Linked DNA regions of Homo sapiens: all the other regions are linked to region 2. Evidence: fine-mapped expression QTL. A gene starts in region 2. Each other region holds a variant in brackets. All regions are shown on one strand. Distances are between the middles of the regions.

Region 1 (4,242 bases), 130 kb after region 2:
CATTATTGTTGTAAGAGATGTTTTGATTTTATATATTTGGCCAGAGATTACTCTTGTCACTGTCCACAAAGGTGTAACTTGATGTCCTTCCTAACCCCCATGCCAGGTCAAGACCTGTGTTACATTCCCCTGCCCCCTACCGCCCCCCACCCCCAATGGGGTCTCACTCTTTTGCCCAGGCTGGAGTGCAGTGGTGCCATCTCAGCTTACTGCAACCTCCGCCTCCTAGATTCAAGTGATTCTCCCACCTTAGCTTCCCGAGTAGCCAGGACTACAGGTGCACACCACCACACCCATCTAATTTTTGTATTTTTAGTGGAGATGTGGTTTCACCATGTTGGCCAGGCTGGTCTCGAACTCCTGGCCTCAAGTGATCAGCTGCCTTGGCCTCCCAAAGTGCTGGGATTACAGGTGTGAGCCACCATGCCCGGCTGACCTGTGTTACTTTGATTATGAACACCCATCTATGACAGTTTTGCTTCCCTGCCTCCAAGTGAGTGGTATCTCTGCCACTAGAGGTTGATATGAATGACTGATAATGCCAAATAATAATTTTCACCTAGGAAACTTAGACAAGGAGACCTAACCCATAGCAATAGTAGACATTTGATAAATATTTGTTATACGAATGAAATGAATAGCACAAGCTAAGAGTGCTTTCTAAAGATTGGGCCCAAGAGAAGACAAAATGGGCAACTAGTCTGATATTACAAAGCTTCGAGGATTTAATGGTCCATTGCCTTGTGAAGGAGATCCTTGAGTAAAGGTTTCCTGGAGACCTCTAAGTCTTCAGTGACTCTCTGCTTGCGGGTCATGTACCACCTGCCCCTGTTAGTTCCCATCTCTCCCCATAGTGTGAAACTCTGTTACATGGCTGTCTCTTCCTGCTCTGGGTTTTTTTTTTTTTTTTTTTTTTTGTGAGACAGGGTCTTGCTGCGTTGCCTGGGTTGAGTGCAGTGGCATGATCATGGCTCACTGCAACCTCGACCTCCCAGGCTTAAGCAATCCTCCCACTTCAGCCTCCTAACTGGGACTACAGGTGCACACCCCCAGGCCTGGCTAATTTTTTATTTTTTTGTAAAGATGGGGTCTCCCTATGTTGCCCAGGCTGGTCTTGAACTCCTAGACACAAGTGATCCTCCTACCTTGGCCTTCCAAAGTGTTGGGATTACTGACGTGAGCCACAGAAACTGGCACCAGCTCACTCTTGAATTCCTCAAGAGCAATGCTGTATTCCTGTCTGTTTCCTCCAGCTCTCAGACAAAGGCAATGCATAAACAAACAAACAAATACCTTTTGAATTCCAGATGAACACCATTAGAAATCTCAAGTTATTATAACATAGTTTTGGCATTTTAAGGGCGGGGAACCCAATAGCAGATCAACAGCCTCTCTTTTACTATTTTTGCAAGCCTTGTGGTTTTTGGCAGCAGTGGCTGCCCGGCTCTGCCGCATGCTCATTCAGCTTCAACCACAGTGACCTCCTTTCTTTTGGTCCCTGTATTCACAATGCTCCTTCAAGCCCAGGACTTTTCCACATGCTCCTCTCTCTGCTTCCCTTTCCTCTTTGCCTGCCCACGTCTTTCTTGTCCTCCACTAGAATGGAAGATCTATGAAGGCCAAGGTCTATGCCTACTTTTCCCCACCTTTGTAGCTGCAGTGCCTGACATAGATGCAGGCCAGTTTGCCAAAAGCCTATCCACTGAAGAACTCATTCCTGGGGCAAAGGAATGTGATTTTTTTATGAGCCCATGCAGTTGACCTTAAGGCCACATTCTGGCCTTTCTTGAACGTGTCTCTCGCAGTGTCCAGCCTCATTTCCTCTCCCTATTGGATTGTGGTTTCCTGCTTCTCCCAGGCCTCACTGTCATCTCACATCCTCC[A/G]TCTGCCTGAACGTCCTGAAACTGATTTCCTTTGTACTCATAAATAGCTAACTTCATTTATTTGTCTTAAATAAGAAATCTGGGCTGGGCGCAGTGGCTCATGCCTGTAATCCCAGCACTTTGGGAGGCCGAGGTGGGCGGATCACAAGGACAGGAGATCGAGACTATCCTGGCTAACACGGTGAAACCCCGTCTCCACTAAAAATACAAAAAATTAGCCGGGCGTGGTGGCAGACGCCTGTAGTCCCAGCTACTTGGGAGGCTGAGGCAGGAGAATGGCGTGAACCCGGGAGGCGGAGCTTGCAGTGAGCCGAGATCGCACCACTGCACTCTAGCCTGGGGGACAGAGTGAGACTCTGTCTCAAAAAAAAAAAAAAAAAAAAAAATCTGATATTATAGAAGACTTTCTTTGACACCTTCTTTTTCCACCCACCCACCCTTGGGTTAGATACTCTTTCCAGTGTACCTGTAATGCCCAGTATCCTTCGTATTACATTATAATTCTTAATTTATGCATCTCTCCCACTTCAGACCAAGAGTTCTTTGATGGGGAATCATGTCGGGTTTACCTCTGCATCCCTTCGGGCTCAATAAACGTGAAGTCAATGATATTAAGACGCTGTGTGAAGACAATATTATGAACCCAAAGGTATCTGAGAGATTCATCTAGGTGGTAGTATCCACAACCTCAGAGGACGTGCTCAGCTGTTCTCCCATGGGATAGAATTTTGCCTCCTTGACTATGGGACTGTGATATCGGGCAAAAAGCAACAGGGGTCCACATGGCCATGTTTGTCTTTTTCCAAAGAAATATTTGGCCATTGGAAATATTGCTTCTGAGTTGCAAGATAACCAAAAAGCCTGGCATGGGGCCCTAAACTTAGTTTGGGAAGCTTGGGATTGGCCATGCTTAGCTCTTGGGATGTGTTTGTTGAGCTGCAAATGTACCCTTCCAGGAAAAGTTAAGTCTGTGACAATGACTTCTCAAGCAGAGACACCAGACAGCTGTTTTAGAATCCCTGAGGGCCAAAAAAAAAAAGTGCTGAAGGGAACAATGGCTTGCTTATGAACTAGGAGAGATATTCAATAGATAATACCCTTTTCATCAACCAAGTTTTAAAGAAATTGAGGATAAGACCAAACAGCAAACAATAAGGTGACCAAAATGTATTGTGGTTAATGCTGAAGTATAGAGAGCATGGCTCATAACTGGAGTGAGGACTTGTCCTAAACCCAGAATGTGGTGGACTTAGCTATAAGGTCATCATGTGTTCGGGAAGACTCAGGCCTCACCCAGCAGGGCAGTCCTGTAATGACCTGGAAGAGTGGTGCGAAAGAGAGGAAGGGGCAGAGGCCAGGAGTGTCATGCAATTGCTGTGCCTCCTCACGGAATTATTGAGTGTGTCCCCTGTGTCATAGACCCATCACAGTTGTCTCTTCCAGTACTTCGTGAGCTCCCTAAGGGCAGGGACTGTGTATACTTCTGGGCGCTAAAATGAGTGTGAATCCATGTCAGGCACTCTGTGCCAGTCTTTATTGGAAATATATGATTTTATCTTAAATAGTTCTTCAATGTAGGTACTATCACTTGCCCTGACTTTAGAGATACAGGCACTAAGGTTTGTGGAGGTAAATAACTTTCCCAAGATCACACAAGTAGCAGATGTCAGAGTGGGAAACTGAGCCCAGGAGGCCTGACGTCCCAGGCAGAGCTGCTAACTATTGTTCTGTATGCTTCTTGATGGGTGATTCAAGGCCTTGTGTAGTGTTAGGGTATCATTTAATGATCTGATTATGAAAGTGCTAAATGAGGTGATTGGGGGATTCTCTGTCTTGGATTCTCTATTCCTGGCCTTTTATAAATTCCTTTGTCCCTGGCTGGGATCCAGCTGGCTTACACAACTGTCAGTGTAATCTCTATCAATATTTACACAAGGGGTCATGCCATCAAAGAAACTAGAGAAATATCAGGATTAGTGCTTTCACTGGATAAAGTTTGAGGATTGAAGAACCTTCTGTTGAGTGGATTTGAAATAGTTGCATGGAAAATATTTTTTTATTTTCCTTGAAGAGAAGTAAACAAGCCAGAGATTATTTCAAATTTATTTTGCTAATTGAAACAAAGCATGACAGTGACCTTCGAACCAGTGCCAGTAAAAATCAAATAAAATCTGGATAGTATATTCTGAGAGTGGTCTAAATGGGATGCCTTTTAGCGGGGGTTTGTTCAAATGCTTAAATTTTTAAAAAGAACGAGGTAAAGCTATGTTTATTGATATAAAAAGATTATCAATCTATAACAGGCATGAGAGAAGTGAGGTATAGAAAGAAGTTGATGTGTTTATGAATATCCCTTTGT
Region 2 (4,242 bases):
TTTCTTACCAGTGGCTGATGCTCAATAACAACTTTAGGTTTTTGATTATTTTTAAATAAATTTATTTTGGATAAGTGTGAATGTCATCAAAGAAATAATGCATGTTAGAGTTGGGTGATCCTTTTGAGCTTATTCTGGCTTATCCCTCTCATCTTATAGTTAAGGAAAGTGGAGCCTAAATAATTTTATGCAAGCTGCCCCAAATTTTTTCTTTCTTTTTTTTTTTTTTTGAGACGGAGTTTGGCTCTTGTTGCCCAGGCTGGAGTGCAATGGTGTGATCTTGGCTCACCACAACCTCTGCCTTCCGGATTCAAGCAATTCTCCTGCCTCAGCCTCCCGAGTAGCTGGGATTACAGGCATGTGCCACCACACCCAACTAATTTTGTATTTTTAGTAGAGATGGGGTTTCTCCATGTTGGTCAGGCTGGCTGGTCTCGAACTCCCAACCTCAGGTGATCTGCCCGCCTCGGCCTCCCAAAGTGCTGGGATTACAGACGTGAGCCACTGCACCCAGCCCAAATTTTCTAATGAACAATGAAAATCAACCAAACAGCCATGACTCACAGCAAGCTACCTTTTTGATGTGTGTCCCTTCAGTCTCTTAAAAATGTGTATGCGTATTCTTATACTAAAATCTTATCATACTCTTTATATTTTTGGATCTTGCCTTTTTCATTCAATATATTTTGAGGATTTTCTCCAAATTTATTCACATGTTTACTACTCGCATATCCACATATTTAATGGCTCCAAAACATCTCATTGTATGGATAAACCATGATTTAAGTGATCTCTTCCCTGTTGTTAGGTATTTAGGTTGTGAGTTTTTGTTGTTGTATTGGCAATAAAACCTTTGCATCAGTCATGAGGCTTCTTTCTAGTTATTTCTTAAGGGAGAAATTACTGGTTTGGCCGAAGGGGACGGACATGTTTAAGGCTTCAGATATATACTGCCAAGCTGACTAGCCCAGGAAAGTTGTACAGATTTGCCCTAATCAATATGTTTCATAACTGTTTTTGAAATCTTGCCAACTTTAAACCTAATAGGTCAGTATCAGTAATTCCCGTTAACGTAAGAGTTCAAATTTGCCCTAGTTTTAATCATTTAAAAATTTTTTATAATTTTTAAATGATAACAATTATGATGCAACCATGACTTTGAGAAGCCAAGAGATCTTATTCTCAAATTGTAAATGAATCCGTAAGAGCTAAGAGAGAAGAAACAGGCTATTAAATGGCCAAAGATCAAATCTGAAATGTCCAGGAGTTTTCCTGTAGGGGTCACTGTTACTGTCAATTTATGCCTGCAAGAAAACTAAAATAGTCACACATTAAAGCATGTATGCACATTTTTAATGTCTGATTCCTCTACATTTCTTAAACTGTAAAATAATAAGAACATGCAGCCAGATAGCATCGCGATACCAACTTCTTTATATAATGACACGTACCATTCCACTCAATGTGCTCCTCAGTTTGAATTTATAAAATATATGCTACTCAAATGAAAGGCACTTATGCCTGCTCTTAGTAGAGGAAGCGCTAGCTAATTGCCTAACGCCCCATTAGCATATGGCCTATACTGACTTGAGAAGGAAAGAACGTTCATTGCTGTGGCCAATAGGATCCCCTCTCCCCACCTTCCCTTTTCTGCATCAAAATCTACACAGACAAAAGTCAGATGTTGTAATATGCATTTTATCGTGTCACTTAAGTACTAAGAGGTGCTTTTAAAGTTTTTATTAATGCTGCTCAAACTTGACCCCGACGGTCCAGGATACAGGCCAAGGTGTCAGTGCGGACACAATCGCAAGGCGGCTGTTAGGCTTCAGGGCTGGGCAGGAAACTTGCCAGGTGCTACTAGGAACGTATCAGCCCTTTCTACAAAGCAGGTGTCTTTCCCATCATAAAATGCAAAGCAATCAGCCGTTCCCTTTCTCCCCAGCCCCCTCGTCCGGAGACCGAGAGGATATTTACCCTGGGCTCTTGCAGTTCTCTTATAACTGAACCCAGCGGCGGCTCCTTCTCCGAGCTCAGAGCCAGCAGGCTCAGGCCCAGCCACACTTTACAGGCAAATTGCCGAGCTGACCAAGGGCTTTGGCCAAGCCCGAGCTGGGCCGGGGCGTCCGGGAAGCGGAAGGAGCCAGTCTAGGAAATCCGGGTGTGCGTGGTGGTGAAGCTGGTGGGCAAGCTTCCACTTCAGGTCCGGGGCTTTGTGTCCCGCAACAGACGCTTGGCGCCGCTCCTCTTCCAGCCTGCTGCCGCCTTCTCCGAGCGAGTGAGTTGGCGAAACTCACTCACCTGTCGGAACCCGGTGCCTGGCGGCCAGACGCGCAGATTACAGCAAACCTTGGCCGGGACGCCCCAGCCAGGGAGGCAAGTGTGGGAGCTGCTCCTAGAGGTGCCAGCTCCCACCCCCAGCTCCGCGCCCCCTGCTCGTCCCCTTTCACTTCCAGGCGCCTTCGGCTTGGGGTGCCCAGAAGGGCAAGTCCAGCAGACGCCAGGGCTGCAGGTTCAAGATGCTCCGCCTCCTCCTGCCACTTAGAGCCACAAACGCTAGCGGGAACCTTTCCACTCAGTCTTAGTCTGCGGTCACTGCTGAGGTTTTCAGAACTTTCCAGGCAAAGGCCAGCCAGGTCCTTTGCCTCCAACCCACTCCGCGCCTACCTCCCGCCTGGGGACACCCCTAGGCCCAGGAGATCCTACTCTCCCCCGAGCACCGACGTTCCAACTCGTCTGCGCCCCCGACTGCTGTCCGGCTCCTGTGCCAAGGGGCGCGCGCATCTTCCCGGGGCCAGCAACGCTCCCAACTTCTCGACTCGCCCTCCTCCTCCCCAGAGCGAGAGTGGGGCGGGCTGAGCCCGGATCCGGGGTGCACTCGAGCGTTCCCAGCGCTCGGCATTCACCCCGCCTCAGAGCCGACTTTCGAAGGGGGATTGAGCCTCGGAGGTCCAGGCGTCTTACTCCAAAGCTCAAGTCGGCCCCCGTCTTTTCTTTCCACACCCCTGTGCCCGTCGCATGCTGGCCGGGTGAGCGGCCGGGCCGAGGATTCGGGTGCCCGGGGCCGCGTCGCCCCGTCGGGTACTGAGCTGAGCGCACCATGGCCGGCTGCTGCTGCCTGTCCGCGGAGGAGAAGGAGTCGCAGCGCATCAGCGCGGAGATCGAGCGACAGCTTCGTCGGGACAAGAAGGACGCGCGCCGTGAGCTTAAGCTGCTGCTGCTGGGTGAGTGGCTGCGTCTCCGACTCCAGTGAGCCGGGCGTTTTTCTTCCGAGCCCTCCCGGCCTCTCCACTGGCACCCGCGCGGCCCTGGAGCCCAGCGGGGTGCAGGGCGGCTTCGTCCTTCTCCCCCTCGGAGCTCACGGATGCCAGCAACTTGGGGCCTTAGGTGCCTGTTCTTTCCATCTCTGGCTGGGCGACTTGCAAAAGCAACACCTTCCCCTGCCCCAAAACAGGATAGGGACCTGTAACACTTAACCTCTTGACCGCTGTACCTTATGTGTTCCGGTGTGCCCCTCTCCTCAAAACCCCGTCCACTCCTCCGCCCGCAGCACACCCAGCTTGGGGTCTGTGGTGACCCACATCTTGGGTTCAGCGCTAGCTCTGACCCGTACGCTTTCAGTTCTAGATGAAGCATCTTGAGAATTTACCATGTGCCAGATCGTGCTAAGTTCTTAAGGGCATCACCACCTGGTGATGCGGGCAGGTGATATCGCTATTCTAGAGAATTAAAACATGGAGGCCTGGAGAACTGACCAACTTGCCCTGATTGAGAAAAGGCAAAGCCGATGCTAGGTCAGCTGTGGGGGTGAAGCCCATGCCGTTGCTGCTCCTCTGACCGTGAGCTCCTATGCCTGCCTCCCATGGGGGTCCCTCAGGCCTTTGTGTTTGCAGCGGACCCAAACCTCCCTTGCCCAGCTTGACTCAGTGTGTCCACGTCCTAGGATTCAGCTTGGCTGCCCTGGTGCCTCTGGCAGGTCTTCATCCAGCTCTTTTGGTGTCTCTGCAAAGGTCTGGGTAGGACATCCACTTTCAAACACAGAAAGAACACAGTTTAAGGTTTGCCCAAGTTATGCCATGAGGCAAGGATCCCATCTCAGACTTTCTAGAACGCTGTCAACACATTTGCTGTTTGAGGAATATTTTACCTTTTCTACCTTTCAGACCATGATATCAGCTGTCAATTTTTTTCTAGATAGCCACAAAGATTTCAACTTTTTTTCTTTCACCCCTTTTGAACAGG
Region 3 (4,242 bases), 78 kb after region 2:
TCAAGCAGAGTATTAAAGTGACCTATAATCTCATTTTAGCTGAGGTAATATCACTAAATATTTAGCGTCGACAGTATATTGTTGGCTTATTAGTCATAGTTTATTTCTGCAAATCCTAATCAGCTAGTTCTATTGACCTGTGCTATCTACCTGTAATATTATCTCCATGAAGCCACAATGGAACATTTAGTAAATTATTGCTATAACTCATTAAACTATAACCCCAAAGCATTCAGAGCATCCTAATTGGATCTGGCCTGACCTGATTTAAAAATGTACAGAGTCCCCAGGAGGCACACAGACACCAAGTTTTTGCAAGATTTTCAAGGCATAGGATGATGTTTAGGCTCATTATTGCTTAATATATTTAATTTCTTTGATAGACTTGATTACCTTGGCTAATTCAAACTAATTTGTTGTATTTGTTGCTAGTTAATTTTAGTTTCTAATTGCAGATTGTGAGTCTGACATAAATATTTTTAAAAACTGGATCACAGGTCACAGATCAGTTTATTACACATTGAAACAAAGCTTCTCTTCTAAAATACCTTTTGGGGCCAATTTGGAATTTGTGTCTTTTTATGTATTCTATAAAACTATGATGGATATATGATATTTCCTTTCATTTTATGAAAGAAAGGAGAAAAAAGAAATGTCTAAAGGTAGGACTGACCCAAGAAAGGAAGAATGGAAGATTTGTCTGGATAAGTTTTTGGATATTATTTCTCAGTCTACATAATTCCATTGATGCATTTTATAATTCTTCTTCCCTACGTGTTAGGTCTCTGTTTCTTTCCTTAGATCTTTTCTTGGAAAACACTTTTGTTGTCACTGTGATTGCCCTTCTTTTAGTTCCTTATAACTCACAGGCCAAAAAATCATCCACTGTCAATAAAGACAAACTTGTAATTTGCAAGATTACTTGACTTTTCTTCTTAACCTGGGAATTTTTCATGGGCCTTTCTATTCACCCTGTTCAGAGTTCTCCCCAAATCCTTGGTCTCAGCCACCACTCTCTTTCAGTTGCTCCTCAATTGAAATCGCTAGAAACCAACATTTACACAATGTAAATACACTGAAGTGAAAACACAGATTCTCTTATGAGCAGCCAGTTGGTGGAAAAAAAAAGATGAAATTAATTTTAGTAATATATGTTTATTTAACCCAATATATCAAAAAAATTATCATTTCAACATACACTTAATATAAAAATTAATGAGATATTTTACACTCTTAAAAATAATAAGTCCTTAAATGCCTGTGTATTCACAGCACTTAACCTTTTTTTTTTTTTTTGAAGGCAGAGGTTTGCTCTTGTTGCCCAGGCTGGAGTCAAGCGATTCTCCTGCCTCAGCCTCTCGAGTAGCTGGTATTACAGGCATATGCCACCAAGCTTGGCTAATTTTGTATTTTTAGTAGAGACAGGGTTTCTCCATGTTGGTCAGGCTGGTCTTGAACTCCTGACCTCATGTGATCTGCCCGCCTCGGCTTCCCAAAGCACTTCCCTTTTTAATGATAAGTTTTTGAAATCTGGTGTGTATTTACAGTACTTCCCAAACCAAACTAGCCACATTTCAAGTGCTCAACAGCCACATGTGGTTAGTAGGCACCATATTGGATGACATAGTCTTAGAGCATTGATTTAAGATATTCTTCCATACACTACAAATAAGACCCTCTTAAATCCCACTTATCCCAAAATATCTTCAAGATTTCCTCTGTCAAAATTTAACTCCAACCCCTCCACAGTACTTAGAAAAATTCCTCTTATTGAGAACTTATCTCAGCCTTACTTGTGTTCAAATATTTATATATTTATCTGTCTCAGAGATTATGAACTCATAGAAGGTACATATTATCCTTTGCTCATCTTTGAACAATAGCATAAGAGTGTGGAGGAAAATTGGATTTTGACAGATAACTGACTCAGGTTTAAATGCTACTACTAGCACCATGCAGTTGTGGTAGCTATACAATTCTAGCCCATTTTTTGAACCTCAGTTTTCTCATCTATAAAATAATACCTCTATCATAGAGTA[C/A]ATGAGCATTAAGTAAGGTATGCCTAGCACTTAGTTGGGTCTCAGTAAATAACTTATTATATTGAATGTAAAAGGGCAATTTACTCTATTAAATATGCACATAGATTATAAGTTGTACTCTTATTTCAGAAACATTAAAATTTGAGAGCTCAGATATTTCCAGTGGGAATGTAAAATGATACATCGACTTTAGAAAACACTGTGGTAATTCCACAAAAGGTTAAACATGGAGCTACCATACGACCCAGCAAGGTTACTCCTAGGTATACACCTAAAGAATTGAAACATATATCCACACAAAACTTGTACATGAATGTGCATAGCAGCATTATCCATAGTAGCCAAAGAGTGGAAACAACCCAAATGTCTATAATCTGATGAAAAAATAAACAAAATGTGTGGAATAGCCATAATAGAATATTATTTGGCAATAAAAAATGAAGTACTGATGCACGCTACCAGATAAATAAACCTAAAAAAATTATGTGAATAAAGGAAGCCAGTTATGCATGCAAAAAACACATATATTGCATGATTCCACATATGAAATGCCCAGAATAGGCAAATCTAAAGAGACAAAGTAGATTAGTGTTGCCTGGGCTGCAGTGGTGGGGGCAAGGAGTCACTGCTAATGGGTAAAAAGTTTCTTTTGGGGTTTCTTTCTTTAAAACATGATAAGATGTTCTAAAATGAGATTGTGGTGATGCTTGCACAACTCAGTAAATATATTAAAAACCATTGAATTGTACACATTAAATGGGTAAACTTGATAGTATGTTGATTATATTTCAATAAAGCTGTTAAAATTGGGGGAAATGGTGTTAGAATTAAGTTAATATATATTTATTTGTTTAGTTTAAAGTTAACTTCCTCCAACAAACAATAATGACAAAAATTAATCGAAATACAATTCTTGGTCCTAAAATGTGTGGACATTTTCGCTTCCATGATTTTTGCGTGGTGGCTCATGCCTGTAATCCCAGCACTTTGGGAGGCCGAGGCAAGCGGATCACGAGGTCAAGAGTTCGAGATCAGACTGACCAACACAGTGAAACCCCGTCTCTACTAAAAATACAAAAATTAGCCAGACATGGTGGCACACGCCTGTAATCCCAGCTGTTGGGGAGGCTGAGGCAGGAGAATTGCTTGAAACTGGAAGGCAGAGGTTGCAGTGAGCCAAGATTGTGCCACAGCACTCCTGCCTGGGTGAAAGAGCGAAACTCCGTCTTAAAAAAAAAAAAAAGAAAGAAAGGAAAAGAAAAACATATCCCTACTACCCTCCTCCAAGAGGAGATGGCTCTCTCTTTCACTTTACAGGGGCAGACACAGCCCCTGAAATATTGAACCCGGGGGAGAAACCAAAGCCCCCACATAGCCTGGGCTCTTTCTTCTTTCCACCTTAATTCCTCCCTGGAGCAGCCCCTGTTGGTGGAACTCACTATACCGAGTGGTCTCCTGTGGAGTTGTCTCCCTCTGACCGTTTTGTAAGCTCCTGGGGAGCAGGAGCTGTGTCCATCTTGTTCACAGCCATTTCACAGTTCCCAACACATAGTAGGTCCTCGGGAAACTTGTTGGGCAGGACAGTTCTGGCCCCTCCAGCACTGGAGAGGAGTAGCTGCAGCACATCCAGCAGTATTTTCCTTCTTGAGTTACCAAGTTTGGCCAAATGCCAATGATCTCTCTGCCTATACTGCTGTGCTAATAGGACTGCATCCCCCTGCCCCCCTTGCTAGTTACCATGTCACAACCAGGATCAAGGGAAGAGCATGCTTGAAACATATATTAATAGCAAGAGTAAGTTCAACACACCTTCTGCGGGGAGGGAACCTTTTTTTCCCAACCCCATTTAAAAAAAAAAAAGGCAAAAGAGATTCATGAGGCTGGAGATTCAGTTTAAAATGCATCTGGGGTGGCGGAGCTCTTTAACAGAATAAGAGAAGGCACATATGGGACTTGGGTTTCTCATCAAAGCTGGGCTAAATAGAAAGCTCTTTCTGCCTGGGCATTGAAAAACTTGTCTGATTTGGAGATCCACCTGAAAATATCGAGTAGCAGAGACACCTGCTGATCTCAGACGTGGCATGACAGTCTCTTTCCAAATTGCATCCCATTAGGGGTTTCTGAAGTGCGACTTTACTGTCTCAATTGTATCTTTGCTCCCTCCACAAGACCAGCTGAAGGGGGTTTGCTGAAGGCAGCCCCA

The links. PIP is the estimated chance that this variant, and not a neighbour inherited with it, causes the effect. A credible set is the group of variants that fine-mapping cannot tell apart.
Region 1: its variant is the best candidate, but not a certain one, in a credible set for the expression of GNA14 in tibial nerve (GTEx, PIP 0.80).
Region 3: its variant is the best candidate, but not a certain one, in a credible set for the expression of GNA14 in nasal epithelium (TOPMed, PIP 0.82).

Annotation. Positions count from the first base shown.
Region 1 is chr9:77,512,636-77,516,877 of GRCh38, reverse strand. The region is part of intron 2 of GNA14 (G protein subunit alpha 14); the gene reads left to right. All of the region lies in intron 2 of GNA14-AS1 (GNA14 antisense RNA 1), which reads right to left. Among named protein-coding and RNA genes, the nearest start is that of GNA14-AS1, 67 kb to the right of the region's middle. The variant A/G (reference allele first, on the strand shown) is at 1,884.
Region 2 is chr9:77,646,652-77,650,893 of GRCh38, reverse strand. It overlaps GNA14 (G protein subunit alpha 14), which reads left to right and starts at 2,572. Exons shown (of 7, transcript NM_004297.4): 1 at 2,572-3,224. The coding sequence starts at 3,101.
Region 3 is chr9:77,568,811-77,573,052 of GRCh38, reverse strand. The region is part of intron 1 of GNA14 (G protein subunit alpha 14); the gene reads left to right. Among named protein-coding and RNA genes, the nearest start is that of GNA14, 77 kb to the left of the region's middle. The variant C/A (reference allele first, on the strand shown) is at 2,040.